Regions from separate parts of the Homo sapiens genome. Here region 2 is linked to region 1. Evidence: fine-mapped expression QTL. Tissue or cell type: whole blood. Region 1 holds a variant in brackets; the other region holds the start of a gene. All regions are shown on one strand. Distances are between the middles of the regions.

What was found. PIP is the estimated chance that this variant, and not a neighbour inherited with it, causes the effect.
Region 2: it holds the start of HNMT, and the variant in region 1 is fine-mapped to the expression of HNMT in whole blood (TOPMed, PIP 0.94).

What each region holds. Positions count from the first base shown.
Region 1 is chr2:138,040,031-138,048,656 of GRCh38, forward strand. It overlaps LOC107985948 (a long non-coding RNA gene), which reads right to left and starts at 3,708. Exons shown (of 3, transcript XR_001739719.2): 1 at 3,533-3,708. It overlaps LOC105373636 (a long non-coding RNA gene), which reads right to left. Exons shown (of 3, transcript XR_923367.2): 3 at 5,450-6,780. The variant G/A (reference allele first, on the strand shown) is at 4,971.
Region 2 is chr2:137,959,671-137,968,296 of GRCh38, forward strand. It overlaps HNMT (histamine N-methyltransferase), which reads left to right and starts at 4,803. Exons shown (of 6, transcript NM_006895.3): 1 at 4,803-4,958. The coding sequence starts at 4,822.

The DNA of each region.
Region 1 (8,626 bases):
GATATGACTCCCTGGATGGGATCAGGGCAGATGTCGTTGCCAGTGAGGGAGCAGGGATTTTGGAGCCTGTCAGACCTGAGTTTAAATCCAAGCAACACCATTGACTGTGTAACCCTGAGCAAATAGCCTTGTCCTTTCTGTTTCTGTGGAATGAGATATCAATACCTATCTTCCCGGGTGATGGTGGGAATCAAATTAGGTGATGTCTATAAAGCACCTGTCCCAGTACAAAGACTCAACAGATGGAAACTACTTTTATTATTATTGCTAAACTCAGTGAGGTCCATTTGTCAAAATAGTCTTGATTCTAGCTAGAAGCTGAGGATTATTTCAGTCTATGGACACCCAGACCCAGAGAGCCAATTTGAATAAAGTCACCAATTTGGCAGACTTGGGTTTATTTTCTTCTCTTCCCAACTCACAGTGAGCACAGATATCTTTTTAATAAGGAATCTGGAGCATTTCTGGGAGTTTACAAAATAAGGTAGAAAGTAGCCTGGGTGCGATGAACATAAAAAATAGAGGGAACACAAAGGGAACCTGGAATCAGTGGGAAACTTCATTTTCTTTAATTAGCATATTTAAGTGAAGCTTAGAAGCTGCTCCTTCCCTGAAACATTGCATTTTATTAAAAGCTGTTTAGAGCTCATAACCATTCTGCTGATTTTCTCAAAACACGTTCTCCTTACAGGCCGGTGCTAAACTGTGCATATGAAATGAGCTCAGCTTAATGTTGTGTTAAAAGAATTTGGTCTCCAGAGCTGTCTCTCTTCTTAATAATATGTAATCATACTCCATCTATTTAGTTTTCATTTAACTTGCCCCATGCAGGCAATGAATCCAGTTTAATTAAATGTGCCTTTAAATAGTCGAACGGCACTCATTTGCACCTAGCAAGCCTCCCTTTCATCCTATTAAGACCCCCTCAAGATATAAAAACCCAATAAAGAGGCCATGTAAAATGTGTGTCTGATAATGCGAGGGAAGTCTGACATTTGCTCCATAATTTAGTGAAACCTGCAGTAGCTTTTGGGCACATTGTCTCAGCTGAATGGAGCCGGTGTGGGGCCTTGGGTTCTGGAAGGCTGTATCTGGATGAATCGTCATAAATAGCACATTTGGAGATGAGCTGGTGATCTTCTGGGTTGGAGCCAGCAGCAAAGGAAGTGAGGCCACTGAGACACCAAACAGTTACCCAGGGAAGCTCTCAGAGGGTCTTTAAAGAGGGCCTGGCCTGTGCCTCTGGTCATACTCTCTGGGGACAATGGGTGGATGGGGCTGCAGCTTTCCCTATTACAAGATGTGCTAAGAAGGAAGGGAAACCTATCCTGAACACTGACAGCAGAAAATTAGGCAGTATTTTGCAGTCAAGAAGGGGTAACAGTAGAATCCATAATTTTTACAGTGACCATCCTAATCTCTGAGTCCCTCAGTTAAGGACTGGATTCAGTTCAATCTAGTGCTTCATGATTCATGCAGGTAACACATTATTTCTCCAGCAACTGCCAAGTGCTAGCCCCTGTTACAGACCAGAGACACAACAAGCAGATGACAAGCAGATAATTAGATGGTGTCAGGTGGTGAGAAGGAAGAGAATACATCAGGTTAAAGGGTATGGAGGTTAATGGAGTGGGCAGTTGTAGGAGTGGGGTGCACATATTGTCAGCGGAGACCTCATTTGTTAGGTACTATTTGGTAAGCTCAGATTTGACACACTCTTGTTGGTTATGTGCTCAGGGCTAAGTTCTAGGGGCTTTTACACTGTATGTCAGAGACTGTCTACAATGCATCACTCCATTGGCTAACTTAGTTGACTGTGTTGATCGGTTGGGGCCCCCTTTCTTTATTTGTGTCCTTCTGCAACAGCATGCAAAACAGGATTTTTTCCAGTTGTTCGCCCAGGGATTTTTAAATGCCATGTTTTATTGTTCCTTATGAGTTCAATGTATGTAAGCCCTGCCCGCCTAGTGAGAAAATAAGCTCTTTAATGTTGAGAACTCAGCCTTTTAGTTGTCTATTTCCCACCCAGCAGGAGTGCCTTTTTAATACAGGTTAACACAAACTTCAAACTGTAATATGATTTAAAAATTTATATTTTGGTACTTTATGCTTTGAAAAATTGGCCTGTGTATCATCCCAATAAACCTGTGTGGTGAATAATATCTATAACATCCAACTGTGTGGTATTGGTCAAATTCATTCATTCATTTATTCATCCATTTAACAAATATGATTTCAGTTGCATGATTAATTTCCTTGGAATTCAACTTTCTCATTTAAAATTTAGGGACATTAATGCTTGTTTTGCATAATGTGAAAATGATACAGTAAATAGGTTAAATAACTACCACAATGTACATAATAGGTGCTCAATAAATAAGAGCTATTTATGAGTTCAAGCATGTGTAGGATGATGAGTGGGAGCAGGAGATATGAGACGTCATGCAAAAGAAATAGCTAGAGGCCAGATCGTGATGGACTTAAAAACCTAATTGCAATGCGGGTCACTTGAAGTATTTTAAGCAAGGAAGTGGCATGATCATATGATTATACTGGTGACTGCATAGAGAACAGATTAAAAGAAGACAAAAGCAGAAGCAGAAACACCATTTAGATGGGTGTTGCAGTGGTTCAGGTAGGGAATGATGGTGGTTTGGCTGTGATAAAGGAGATGAAGAGAAGTCAGCGGACACAGAAGGTATGGTTCAACAGTGGAATGGACAGGACTTGCTAGTGAATTGAATCTGAGAAGTAAGGGAAAGGGAAGAGACTCCCAGCTTTCCAAGTTAAGCAATCAAATGTTTTCTGAGGGAAGTAACACTCAAGGACAAATAGGTTTGCCACTTAGTTTCCACACATCACACCTAGATTCCTAATGACAGCATCCGCCTAAAGCTCAGAAGATAATGCTGAGTGAGAAAATAGATTTCCTGACTTTAATATCCCATGGTATTTAAAGCCATGGGAGGCGATGAGATCACCTGGAGAGAAACTGAAGTGTGAGAAGAGAGGAGGACTCTGGTGAGATCTCTGAAGAACTGCACAGCTTCAGGTTTGCATAAAGGAGGAGAAAGTGAGGATTGGCCAGCGGCACAGAAGAAAAATCACAGATGTTAGGAAGAGAGAGTGATTCAAAAGGAGGGTCATTTTTTATTCTGTCAAAACCATCTGAGAGGTAAAGTTAGTTGAGGGTTTAGCAGAACAGAGGTCATTGAAGACCCTGATAAGAGAAAATTCAGAAGACAAGAGGAAAAACCAGTTTGGAATAAATTTGAGAATAAAGGGGAAATAATAAAGTGGAGCTATTTTTCAGGAAAGAATTATTGAGACCTACTACATTCCAGGCACTGCTACAGATGCTGGGACTGAGCAGTCAATTGACAGTGTCTCAAGTTACTTCTGTTGTAGAGGGAAGAAAGACAATAGACATACAAATAAATATGTGATATGTCAGCTGGAAAGAATAATGCAGCATTAAGCCAGACTTAAAGGGACTTAAAGGAGTGCTGAGTGGATATGGTTGTTGTCTTACCTAGGGAGGTCAGAGAAGTTGGCTAGGGAAGTCCTCTCTCATGATGAGGTGTCGGAGCACAGACCTATAGAAAATGAGAGAGAGCATGCCCCATGAAAGTATCTGTGAAGACAATAGCAAAGACTTGGAACCAACTCAAATGTTCATCAATGATAGACTGGATTAAGAAAATGTGGCACATGTACACCATGGAATACTATGCAGCCATAAAAAAGGATGCGCTCATGTCCTTTGCAGAGACATGGATGAAGCTGGAAACTATCATTCTGAGCAAACTATCGCAAGGACAGAAAACCAAACACCACATTTTCTCACTCCTAGGTGGAAACTGAACAATGAGAACACTTGGACACAAGGCGGGGAACATCACACACTGGGGCCTGTCGGCGGGTGGGGGATGGGAGAGGGATAGCATTGGGAGAAATACCTAATGTAAATGACGAGTTGATGGGTGCAGCAAACCAACATGGCACATGTATACATATGTAACAAACCTGCACGTTGTGCATGTTTACCCTAGAACTTAAAGTATATATATATATAAAAATCTGGGAAGAGTACATTCCAGGCAGAAGAGGCAGTACATACAAGAGACCTGAAGTGGCTTCATGAATAGCATTGATAAGAAACAACAATGAACACCCAGTGTGGCTTGAGTAGAATGCATGAAGTAAAAAGGGGTAGTAGGTGAGGTCAGCGTGGTGAAAGGGGGTGGTAGAGTAGACCATGTCTGGCTTTAGAAATCTTTTTTCAAAGACAGTCTTTCCCTCTAAGTTGCAAGGTAATTAGTAGGTTTTCATCAGAAGCTGCTGCAAGGTGGACCAGGTAGAAGCAGAGAGAGCCATTGGGGACTATCGTTGTCATCCAGGTAAGAGATAATAGCAGCTTGCACCAGATGGTAGTAGTCAAATGGTGAGAAAAAATCAAAATCTGAAAATATTTTAAAGCTAAAGGTAGTGTAATTTACTAATAAACTGGATGTTAAGTATGAGTGATGGAAAAAGTCAAGGATGACTACATAAATGATTTAGGAAGTTGACCGTGAAGAAGGGTTCAAAATAGTAGACAATGGCTGGAAGGGACAGGGAACAAGGTGAGCAGTTTAAGAATGTGTTTGCCTGCAAATGAGAAGAATCCTGTATTAGTCAGCTAAGCCTGCTGTAACATAATACCACAGGCAGGGTGGTTTAAGAACAGAAATGTGGCCGGGTGTGGTGGCTCATGCCTGTAATCCCAGCAGTTTGGGAGGCCAAGGTGAGTGGATCACAAGGTTAGGAGTTCAAGACCAGTCTGGCCAAGATGATGAAACCGCATCTCTACTAAAAATACAAAAATTAGCCAGGCATGGTGGCAGGCGCCTGTAATCCCAGCTATTTGAGAGGCTGAGGCAGGAGAATCACTTGAACACAGGGGGCAGAGGTTGCAGTGAGCTGAGATC[G/A]CATCACTGCACTCCAGCCTGGGTGACAGAGTGAGACTCCATCTCAAAACAAACAAACAAACAAACAAAAAAACAAGAAATTTGTTTTCTAACAGTTCTGGAGCCTGCAAGTTCAAGACCAAGATGGCAGCAGGGTAGGTTTCCTCTGAGGCCTCTCTCCTTGGCATCCAGGTGGCTGTCCTCTTGCTGTCTTTTCACATGGTCGTCCCTCTGTGCACGCACATCCCTGGTGTGTCTGTGTGCTGAATCTCCTCTTCTTCTAAAAACACCAGTCTTATTGGAATAAGGCACATCCTAATGCTGTCATTTTAACTTAATAACCTCTTTAAAGGCCCTATATCCAAATGCAGTCACATTCTAACAGTAAGACACTGTGAGTTAGAGCTTTAACACATGGATTTTGGGGAAAACATTATAAAATGTGTATCAATGTGATTTTGACTTAGTAGCCATAGAAGAAGATGAGGAATGACATGAAAGTGAACCACTCTCCCTCTTTTCAGACTGAAATATCATCTAAGATCAGGATTTGCAGTGACCCACGTGGCAGTCAAGGGAGAGAGTGTCTTGCAGCAAGGCTTTTGGATTGTTCTTGGACATAAATGGTGAATTATACAAAGAGGAGTTTTTGGAAATATTTGCAGGTTTGGTATGGAGGCCACATGTCCTTTTAAGGAATCAGGTTCTAGAAATTGAAACCTACAGATTTTGAACTTGCCACTTGTACCACACACATTTTTCTAAACCTAGTCTCAGATTGAGAAAGAGAGACAGAAAGAGAGATCAGGAAATAAATATAATAAAAAGTGAATGAAAGTGCAATTTTGACCTAAGGACCTTAAGCAGAAAAACAGGTTACTCAGCTACTCCTTTTTTAAATAACGAAAATGAAATGAGAGAAAGTAGATGGTCATTATTATTACTATTATCACAGCTGTCATTCCCTCATTGATGCCTCGTTAAGATGGATTTTAGTAGATCACAATCTAATATACTACTATATTGAAGACACTTTTTTAAAAAAGCAAAAATAAATCAATAAAATGTTAAAAGACCACTGATGAAATCATGGAGTGGATTAATTAGGGTGTAATATTCAGATCATATTCTTGAGTTGGGCATTTTTTAAAATGTTGTTTTTCCTGTATTCATGTTTCTAGGGCGTTGGCTCTGACTTTAATCTGTCAGGATTCAAACCCTAACAGATCCTCATTCGAACATTTACCATGTGACTCAGGACAAGTTATTAACCTAAATTCCAATTTCCTCACCTATAAAATGGGAATAATGAGAACACTGATCCCAGAGAGCCACTATGGTGATTCCATGAGCGATGTGGGTGAAGTGCTGGGTATGGTGTTTGGCATAGAGCGAGTGCTAAATAAATAGTTTTAAACAACTGCTAGTGAAGGAGAGAAAAAGAGAACCTGAGTCATTAAGGTGATGTGTGAGTAGGATGCAAGCCAGGACAGAAGGTTACAGGGCCATATGTGGGTACAAATGGCCATGCTGAAGTAGGGACTCTGATATATTCCTCATTCTTACTCGGGGCAGTGATGAAAAAGGGAGAGCCTTGTTCAAAAAGCTGGACAACAGTGTCATTACAGGGGAAAGCATTTACCTTTTTTCCATGTACATCCTTTGTTCAACCACATGCTTCAAGGTTGCACATTCAAAACATACCTTCAAAGATTACAGCTTTTAGAGTTTCAAGACAGCAACAGATGAGCATTCAACCATGTGGGGGTTCTTCATAGGCCCTGTTTTCCTTGTTCTACTGTAATCCATAAATGGTTGGAAATGCAGACCACTGAAGAGAATTAATTAGGACTTTTCAGATTTAATGGGAACAATTCAAAGAGTCTAAGTTTCTTTTCCATCCAGCGTGAGTTTCCTATTTAGTGAAGTAAAGCTCAACTTTTATCAATAGTTTCATTCTCTTGTGGTATGTAAAACCTACACACACTCAGAGGCACCCAGAGGAAACTACACTCTGAGTTATTAGTAAATTCTCTCCAAGTGAAGCTGCCAAACACAGAAGCTTAAAACTAGATACAGCTTCTCAGGAAGCAGATCAAGCCCAGACTCTGCCACTGAGATTGAATTAACAGGAGCTCACAGGGCTCTCTTGGATAAGCCACATGGACCCAGGGTTGTTAATTTGGGAGGTTTATTAAATAGCGGATTAGGATTGAAAGCGAATGCATCAAAATGTAAGAAGCCCTAGTTTGTTGAAATGAGAAAATTGATACTGAATGAGGTTATCTCTTGAATCTGGGCAGTCTTGTTTTGGCTACCCCACTGCTCAACTCCTAATTAGTAGGGCAGAAAAAACAAGTCCACGTAGGCTAAATGGCCAAGAATAGATGAAAATCAGCTAATAATATAGTAATTAGGAACAAAGCCAAAGCAGGACCTGCAGATGCCCAAAGTTGAAGAGATGCAAAGAAAAGTGTTGCTATCCAAAAAAAAAAAAAAAAAAAAAAAGTACTTGTCAGAACAAGTTTTTCAACAGCATATACTTTTAGACTAAGATTGAGGATGAAGGTGACAGGAAAATGATTAGCCCCATAGTTAGGATTACTTATATTTAGAAAAATATTTGCAAAGCTTTCCTTCTCCTTTCATATCATAGCGAACACTGAAATTGTGTTGTTTTCCAACATAGCTGCTAATATTTGCAAAGTAATAATTTTGCAAAGGAAACAGCTTGAAATAAAGCATGCCTGATGCTTAGGAAGAAAGCAAAGAATGCTATCTTTGAGTAGTTACTATAGGTAGCTTTTGATCAGAACGAAGTGGCACAGAAACATCCGATTCCAGTCTCACTGGTGCTGTTTACTCCATGTGACCATTATCAGGTCTCACTTCTGCACTGGCTTTAGGATACTTCTACATCATATGAAAGTGCTGTACAATTTCCAAGTTCCTTCTAAGTCAAACATTCTGTTATTCTTCCCTCCAAAAGATCCTTCAAGACAATGGAAGACTAAATAGCAACTAGAACTTGCTTTGAAGTAAGGCTGACATTATCTGCAAACAGATTAAATCACTATGCTTATATTTTATACTGTTATGTATTTTCCCATTGCAGCTTCACAGTCTTCCCCAGACCTTATCTGTGTATATAGGCACACATGCATAACTGCCTTAACAGTAAAAACATGGTCAAAAATGTAAAAGTTCAGGATGCAAGTTTGATGACACACTTTATTTCTCCAAATTGAAATAAAACTAGATCAATCCCCTGGAAGAAGTTTAGAAAAGTGTTAGCCATCCTCTTCCCCTTTGATTTCCATGTCCAAAGATGGAGAAGCTGCCTTTCTAATCCTTCTGTTTCAGTTTCTTTAGCCAATGGGATTTTATTACCAAAAAATGTCACTGAAGAATCTGGCTGATAATGTCCAGCACTGCAGTTTTTCACTAGACCAATAATATAGTTTGGCTGTGTCCTCACCCAAATCTCATCTTGAACTGTAACTCCCATAATCCCTACATGTCCTGGGAGGGACCTGGTGGGAGGTCATTGAATCATGGGGGCAGGTTTTTCTCATGCTATTGTCATGATAGTGAATAAGTCTCATGAGATCTGATGGTTTTATAAAGGGGAGTTCCCCTACACAAGCTCTCTTGCCTGCCACCACATAGGAAGTGAC
Region 2 (8,626 bases), 80 kb before region 1:
ACTAGTATATGCCTGGAAAATAAATCTCCACTTTTTATGTAGCTTTGGGGATATTGTGTTTATTTTCAAACATCATCTTTTAAAGGAACCCAGACAAACTAGAATCTTTCCAAAGGAGGGGCCAGAGTAATGAATTATATAATGCTATATTGTAGAATAAATAGTTAGGAACTATAAAAGAGACACCTGGGGAGTAAGGTTGTCCTGACAGTTGATTTCAAGTTTCTTAATGGTTGTTATATGGAGAAAGAACTGGATTACTTCTGTTTAGTTTAAGCAACCAGAAATAGGAGTAGTATCTAAGAATTATAGGGCAGCAGGTTTTGGCTGAATAAAAAATTGTTGTGAGAGTGCTAGTCCTGGGGTTTGACAGACTATAATTCAACAGCAGTCCTGCAGTTTTTGGCTAGGCAGCTTAATCTCTCAGAAACTTGGTTTTCTCATTTGTAATAGGGGGAAGCTGATGGAGGTACCACAAAGAGTAAATCCTACATTAAATTTGAAAAGATCTGTACAATTCCTGGCACATAGTAAGTGCTCAATAAATGGAATTCTGGTGTTATTGGTAACATATAGAGCTACTCAATAATGAAAAGGATGGAGGACATCTGATAGCAGAGAACAACTCAATAGTGTAAATGTTCAAGCATATTCTTAATTATTTAAAAAAGAACTGAAAGTCTACTTCAGGCAACACATCACGGGAAGTAGCTGTGACTCAGTTCCTGTCTTTATGAGCTAAGTCACATGGGGACAAGCAGGGGAGTTAAGGCAAATATATTAAACAACAATAACACAAGGATGAATGCTTGCAAGAATCTCAGAAATTACGAGCGTGAGTGCTGATTATTTTGAGGGAAATATGGAAGGCTATATGAAAGTGGTAGCATATGAAGAATAGAAAATTTTTCAATGGATGCGGTAAGAAAGGAAGCAGCATGTTACAGAAGGGACTATTATGAGGAGATGCTGTAGGCAAAAAAGCACAGGAATGTATCCAGAGAAGCAGCACAGTTTGAAGGGGATATAAATGCAAACTAGAGGTAAATGAGACACAATTCTGGATAATTATTGGGGGGGCTACAGAATGGATCTTGTACTTGACGTGGGGGTCAGTGGGGAGACTAAATATTATGAGAGAAAGAAAAGAGTGTCTTTATCCAAACTTACTTAAAAAAAAACATGAAGTTGACAGTGGCAATAAAATTGGTTAGGATCTGTGTGATTCCTAAAGCAGGAAAGCCAATAAAAAAAAAAACCACACACACTATAGTATAACTGGCCAGCCAAATGCAGAAGGTTGAAACCGCATCCCTTCTTTACACCATATATAAAAATTAACTCAAGATGGATTAAAGACTTAAATATAAAACCCAAAACTATAGAAACTCTGGAAGACAACCTAGGCAATACCATGCAGGACATACACATGGACAAAGATTTCATGACGAAGACACCAAAAGTAATTGCAACAAAAGCAAAAGTTGACAAATGAGATCTAATTACACTAAGGATCTTCTCCACAGCAAAAGAAACTATGAACAGAATAAATAACCTACAGAATGGGAGAAAATTTTTGCAAACTATGCACCTGACAAAGATCTAGTATCCATTATCTATAAGGAACTTAAACAAATTTACAAGAATAAAAAAAAGACATGAAAAAGTGGACAGAGGACATGAATAGACACTTTTCAAAAGAAGACATACATGCAGCCAACAATCATATAAAAAAAAGCTCAACATCACTGATCATTAGAGAAATGCAAATAAAAACTACAATGAGATACCATCTCACACCAGTCACAGTGGCTATTATGAAAAAGTAAAAAAATAACAGGTGCTGGCAAGGTTGTGGAGAAAAGGAAACACTTATACCCTGTTGGTCAGAGTGTAAATTAGTTCAACCATTGTGGAAGACAGTGTGGCGATTCCTCAAAGACCAAAAGACAGAAATCCCATTCAACCCAGCAATCCCATTACTGGGTACATACCCAAAGGAATATAAATTGTTCTGTTATAAAGACACATGCATGTAAATGTTTATTGCAGCACTATATGCAATAACAAAGACATGTAATCAACCTAAATGCTCATCAGTGATAGTCTGGACAAAGAAAATGTGACATATGTATATCATGGAATACTATGCAGCCATAAAAAATATGGGATCATGTCTTTTGTGGGGACAAGGATGGAACTGGAGGCCATTATCCTTAGCAAACTAATGCAGGAACAGAAAACCAAATACTGCATATTATCACTTATAAGTGGGAGCTAAATAATGAGAAAATATGGAAACATTAGATGGGAACAACACACACTGGGGCCTATTGAAGGTGGAGTGTGGGAAGAGGGAGAGAATCAGGAAAAATAACTAATGGGTACTAGGCTTAATACCTGGGTGGTGACATAATCTGTAAAACAAGCCCCAATAAAACATGTTTACCTATGTAACAAATCTGTGCATGTACTCTTGAACTTAATTTTTTTTTAAAAAAAAGCACAATAAGTGAAAAATAAAGAGAATCTCAAGTAAGGTGGAAACAGTGGAGACGGAAAGGAAGTCCTCACTGGGATCCACATGAAGAACTGGCTCTGTTGGAGAATATTTGACAGCAGGCAAGGGAGGTGATGGTCTCAGAAGACCAAGTTTCAGTTAAGGGAGGCCTTAACAGCAGCTTTCCAAGAGAAAGTCATGTCAGGAGTATTCCTCAGCAGAATAGCAAACAGAGACTCTTACTAAACTTTTATTCAATAGATGAATACATTATTGGCCATTTTTGGTTTTGGTTAAAGTGAAACAAAAACAGATAGATGTTACACATGAATGAATGAATGATTTGGGTTGAGCTCTAAAGAGAAAAATGGAAGATGGTAATAGAAGCAAAAGTTTGTCAGAGCCCATCTGAGGAAAGGGAAGGCTGGTTGGATAGAGATGTGAGTAAAGAACCAGCAAAGACCTTATCTAAGGATGAGTGAAGGGCACAGGAGCTAAATCAGGGCTTGGCCAAATAAGGCCTGTGGCCAAACCCAACCCTACCAACCTGATTTGTGCAGCCCATGAGCTACCAATAACTTTTATGTTTTTATATGGTTAAAGTAAATTCAAAGAAGGATAATATTTCATGACATGTGAAAATGATATGAAACTCAAATTTCAATGTCCGTGAATAAAGTGACGACTGTTTTTGTCATTTTATATATATATATTTTTTTTGCAGAGGGACTGGCTTGCACTTTTTAAACATTAGTTATATTATTCTCAGTACAACCCTATAAGATAAAATTCATTCCCATTTTACTGATGAGCAAACTGCAGCTTATGTTTCAGCCAAAGTCAGACAGTTCATTAAGGGCAGAGTCATCCATGGCAATCTGCCTGTCCAGATATTACACTTTCCCCCGGGGTAAAAGCACTGGCTCTAAGAATAGTGAGAACAAAACATACTTATAAAAGGGAGTTGGGGGCTGGGAATGGTGGCTCACGCCTGTAATCCCAGCACTTTGGGAGGCCGAGGCGGGTGGATCACTTGAGATCAGGAGTTCGAGATCAGCCTGGCCAACATGGTGAAACCCTGTCTCTACTAAAAGTACAAAAATTAGCCAGGCGTGGTGGCGGGTGCCTGTAATCCCAGTTATTCGGGAGGCTAAGACAGGAGAATCACTTGAGTCCAGGAAGCGGAGGTTGCAGTGAGTGGAGATCGCACCATTGCACTCCAGGCTGGGCGACAGAGCGATACTCTGTCTCAAAAAAAAAAAGAGAGTTGGGAAGTGTTTTGAATGCTTAGAGGGCAGCTTGGGAACTCAATTAGAAGAAGGGACGGTTTAAGCAGACATATTTCTAAGAGACTTATATGAGTTAACTCATTTGATCCTCAGCACTCCTCCATGAGTTGGATGCTATTATTAACAACCCAATATTAGATAAAGGATGACCTTCTTAAAGACCTCTTCCCAGGAAAAAGACTGTGTGTGGGTACTCTGAAGCTTTGGCTCTTCTGGTGGGGACACCACTGGGTTTCCAAAGGCTCATCCAGCCAAGCGAAGTATCTATGACCTCGTCGTGTTCAGCGCGCTTAGGGAAGGATTCTATGGACTGCACTTTTACCCTGGTGTCCTGCATTCTTGCTCCAAGACTTCTCTTACCACTCTCATTCCCCTAAATGCAGCTTCTGACACCTTCTAGCTACGAGTTCTTGGGCTCCTCCTTCGTGACTTCCTTTTAAGATAATTTCTGAGTTACAACAAATCAGCATTTGAAGAAATGCAGCAGATAAGTTGAAAATTCAAGTGCTGAGGAATGTAAAGGCCCAAAACAATCCCGTAGAAAGCACAGAGGCAGATGACAGTCTTCCGTTAAAGATTTCACTGCTGTAGATTTCTGAGAGTGCTGTGTAGCTGTCCTCTTTATCCTGGTGTTTGCCACTTCGAACAGTCACTTTCCCACTTGGAACTTACTTGTGGCTTTGCTGACAAAACAGGAAGTGATTTGAATACAGTTTGTTTTTATGACCTTTCAACCTCAGGAATTTGAAAAGTTTTAGCAGTGGATTTACAGCCTTGCTTAATACTTCTATTTCTTACAAAACAACCGTATAGGGGTTAAAGTATCAGTGCAAAGTCCCGTTCAAATATTGACTCAGTAATGAGCTCTACAAGCCAGCCTTTGTGGCATGTTAAATTCAAAACAAGCTTAGCATTTTTTTTTTTTTTTTTGGATAGAAACTGGTGGGGGTGGGGAAAGAAAGAGGGAACTGGGAAGAGAAGGAGGGGAACTTAAACCTTGCTTCCTGCTCTGTCTTTCTCAGAAAACCAAATATGGCATCTTCCATGAGGAGCTTGTTTTCTGACCACGGGAAATATGTTGAATCTTTCCGGAGGTTTCTCAACCATTCCACGGAACACCAGTGCATGCAGGAATTCATGGACAAGAAGCTGCCAGGCATAATAGGAAGGTAACAAAAGGGACGTTGTTGTCAAAGGGACAAGCCTCAGACTGGCTGTGCGTCAGTGATAGATGGGTCTCGCTCAGCCTCGCAGGCTGGGCACAGGGATAAGGGCGAATTACTGATAGCAGCTCCCCGTCGTCCCCTCCTCGCTGCCCTGCCCTGCCTTTCTCCTGCAGTGCTTTGGTTCCACGTTTGCTTTGAACACTCAAAGGCTCCCATTTGTGTTGTATTTCCAGCTGCATAGAGATAAGCGTTAACCATTTGAAGGCACAAATCCATGTTCATTTGGGAAAAGATAAGATGCTAATCTTCGAACTCAGATTTTTCAGCCCTCCTCCAAATTTTACATCCCAAAAAAGTCCCAAAGGGAGTCTGGTATGCTTTTCATTAGAATCAAATATAAATAATTGCCAAAGTACGATTTGCCCTGAGGATTGAGTGCCTCAGTTCTCATAATATCCATTTAAATTAATTTTCCTTATCCATTGTTATAGTTATCACTCTCTTCCTCAAAATTGTCTTTTTCTTTCAGCTTAATATTAGCAATGTGTTCCTTAAAAAAAGAACCATTTTCCCATTATCAGTGAAACTCACTGGTTCCTATCCTTCTTGCAGAGTTCTTTTTTTTGGGTGATTAATGTGTTCAATTTGTGCCAGAGCTGATAAGCATTATGAGAGTAACAGATTCCACATGCTAAAGATAATCAAATCACCTATCTGGGGGTGATTTGCTGTAACTCATTCTACTTCAGGAAATAATAATGGAAAACTGGGAAGAAATGACTATGGATCCAATTTGCAAACAGCAAAGGAAAGTGGTATTTTATCTTTTGCTGAATTTCTCTATTGCAGGCCTGAAATTCTTTCACCAGGGCAGTACCTATGTCTGACCAGAGCAGGCATTATTAGATGTACATAAAATTTTATTTCCTTTTCTATTTAACATGATTCAGATTTTAAATGTTAGCTTTCAAAAAATAGGATATTATATATTAAAAATTAATATGTAATAGGATAAGGATGCAAACATCAAAGCAAATAGCAAATATAGAGAACTTCTTACCTAGGAACTAATTATAGTTAACCTCTTTGGGTTTCTTTGCTCATTTCTAAAGTTAAAGGTAATGAGTTAATTTCTCAATTCTTTTTCAGTACTAAAAGTATTTGCTCATGTCTGTAGCTTACCAGATCCTTGGTTTTCTTCAGCCATACACAGTTTGGTTTGAAGAGGTACCGTGGATGGAGATAACATAATCGATGATGAATGACCCCTTCCTTATCTTCAAAGTTTAAATCTAACTGGAAATATTATAAAATCTGTGAAAGACTGAAGAATTTTTAAGGGCACACTGTTTGTCTTATAACAGTAGTATATAGTTAGGAATGATCAGATTCAGTGTCATTTATTTTTTTCCTGAAGGTAATGTTTGAAATAAGATTTAGCTGAAGGACTTTTAAAATTGTTACTTAGAGTTGTCTATAAGTTATGAAGTACCAAAATGTGATTAGGATACTCTTTGTGTATGTTAGGGCAGGGTTTGTTGAGTTTGTGGCTCACTGTGCTAATTGAGTGTGGAGCGAGCCTATTAAATTTTTATTAAAGCAAGACATGCCATATTTTAAAACATCAAATGGTTCTAAAGTGTGTGGGGACTATAACAAACCCCACCCACTCCATTCTTGATTCCCACTCTCCGGAAGCAACCACTTTCAGCACTTTGAAATCTTTTAGTTATTTATGGAATTTTCTTTCATAATTCAAAATAACATGTTATTGTTCTATTTCTTCATTTCGCTGTATTAAAATAGCTAAGTAAGCATGCATATTTCCCACCCTATCATGTCACTATATGTAGTCAAAATTTTGGTTAAATAATTTGAGTGTTTATGTTATTTTGCCTATGTACATATTCTTAATAATTGAGCAATATATTCGACTATGCTTATATTTCCTTTTACGTACAACTTTTTGTTCTCCCTAGAGTTGACTATTGCCTTGATTTTGGTTTCTTTTCTTAGTTCTCCATGTACCTATTACTATTTTGATCCCCAAGCAGATATATTAATCTCCTCTCAATATATGCAAACATATCAAGGAATCTGTTTATTTTACCCCAAGGGAACAACTTTTCTGAAGCCCTCTGTTCTTTTTTTCAGTTTAGGAAGATCTGCTTTGGCCTGCTATACAACTATTAAGGAGGGAATTTATTTCACTTTCTGAGAATCATTTTCTTTCTCCATTATTTGATTCCCTGATTCTATATCTCATGCCTTTCTTTTCTTTGTTTCCTCGGTCCTTTGTTTCCTGAACAATTCTTTAAGAACTTTAAGAGTGAACGAGAGGTAAACTTTTTGAGACTTTGTATGTTTAAAAATCCCTTGGTTCTATGTTAATCGTTTGACTGGATATAGAACTCTATACTGAAAATGGTTTTGTATAATAGATCTAAAGGTACTTTTCCACTGTCTTTTAGATACCAGAATTGCTGTTAACAAATAAAATACTGGCCAGATGTGTTGGTTCACGCCTGTAATCCTAGCACTTCGGGAGGCTGAGGCGGGAGGATTACTTGAGCCTAGGAGTTTGAGACCAGCCTGGGCAACATAGCAAGATCCCATCTCTACAAAAAAGTGAAAAAGTTAGCTGAACAAGGCGGCATGCACATGCTACTCCAGACGCTGAAGTGGGAAGATCACTTAAGTCCGAGAGATCGAGGCTTCAGTGAGATATGGCTGAGACACTGCTCTCAGCCTGGATGACAGAGTGAGAACCTGTCTCAAACAAGAGAAAAAAATAAATCAAATGCTACTCAAAATTCTCATCCTTGGCATGTGGAATAACTTTTACATTGCTATGTGTTTTGTTTTCCCTATTTTGAACTTTTTAGAATCTTCTTACGTCTAGTATTCTGAAATTTTAAAATACTGAGCTGTGAAATGGTTCCTTTTTACCCATTTTATGGGTACTCCCTGGGCTATTTCAATTGAGATTCAGATCCTTCAGTTATGCGGAACTTTGGTAATCATTCTTCACCACTGTTTTCTTTTTCTGGAACTTTTATTCATCAAATACTTCCTGGATTGATTACCTAATTTTCTTATATTTCCAGTTTGCTACAACTTTCCTCTTTCAGCCCATGTATTAACTTTTTACTATTATATTTTTAATTTCCAAGAATGTTTTCTATAGCATTCTTTTCATCATTCCCAGATGTAATACCTTCTTATTCATTACAAAATGTTCCTCTGCTCTCTCTGCCTCTTTCCATCTCTGTTTCTTATGTTAGACAGCTCCCCAACCACCTAAAGAGCCTTGGTTTTCTATTCAATCAAATAATGAGGCACTAAAAGGTAGTCAGATTCTCTTTGTGTAAGTCAGGGCAGGGTTTGTTGAGTGAGTAGCTCACTGAATAATTGAGTGTGGACTCAGCTCTTTCCTGGGAGATCCTCAGATATAAAATCATGTTAACTTTATCACTGAGATGATTTGTTTCCCTATAGAGGAATTCTTCAATCCCCTATTTGAGGGTAGATGGTGGGGCAGGGCTTGGGGGCAGGAAAAATTATAGTAAATAACTATAAATAGTAAAGTTGGTTATTGTTGTTGCATATAAAACATTTAAATCCTTGGCTAGAAAATAGTAAGTTTTCAATAATTATTTGATGTCATTATA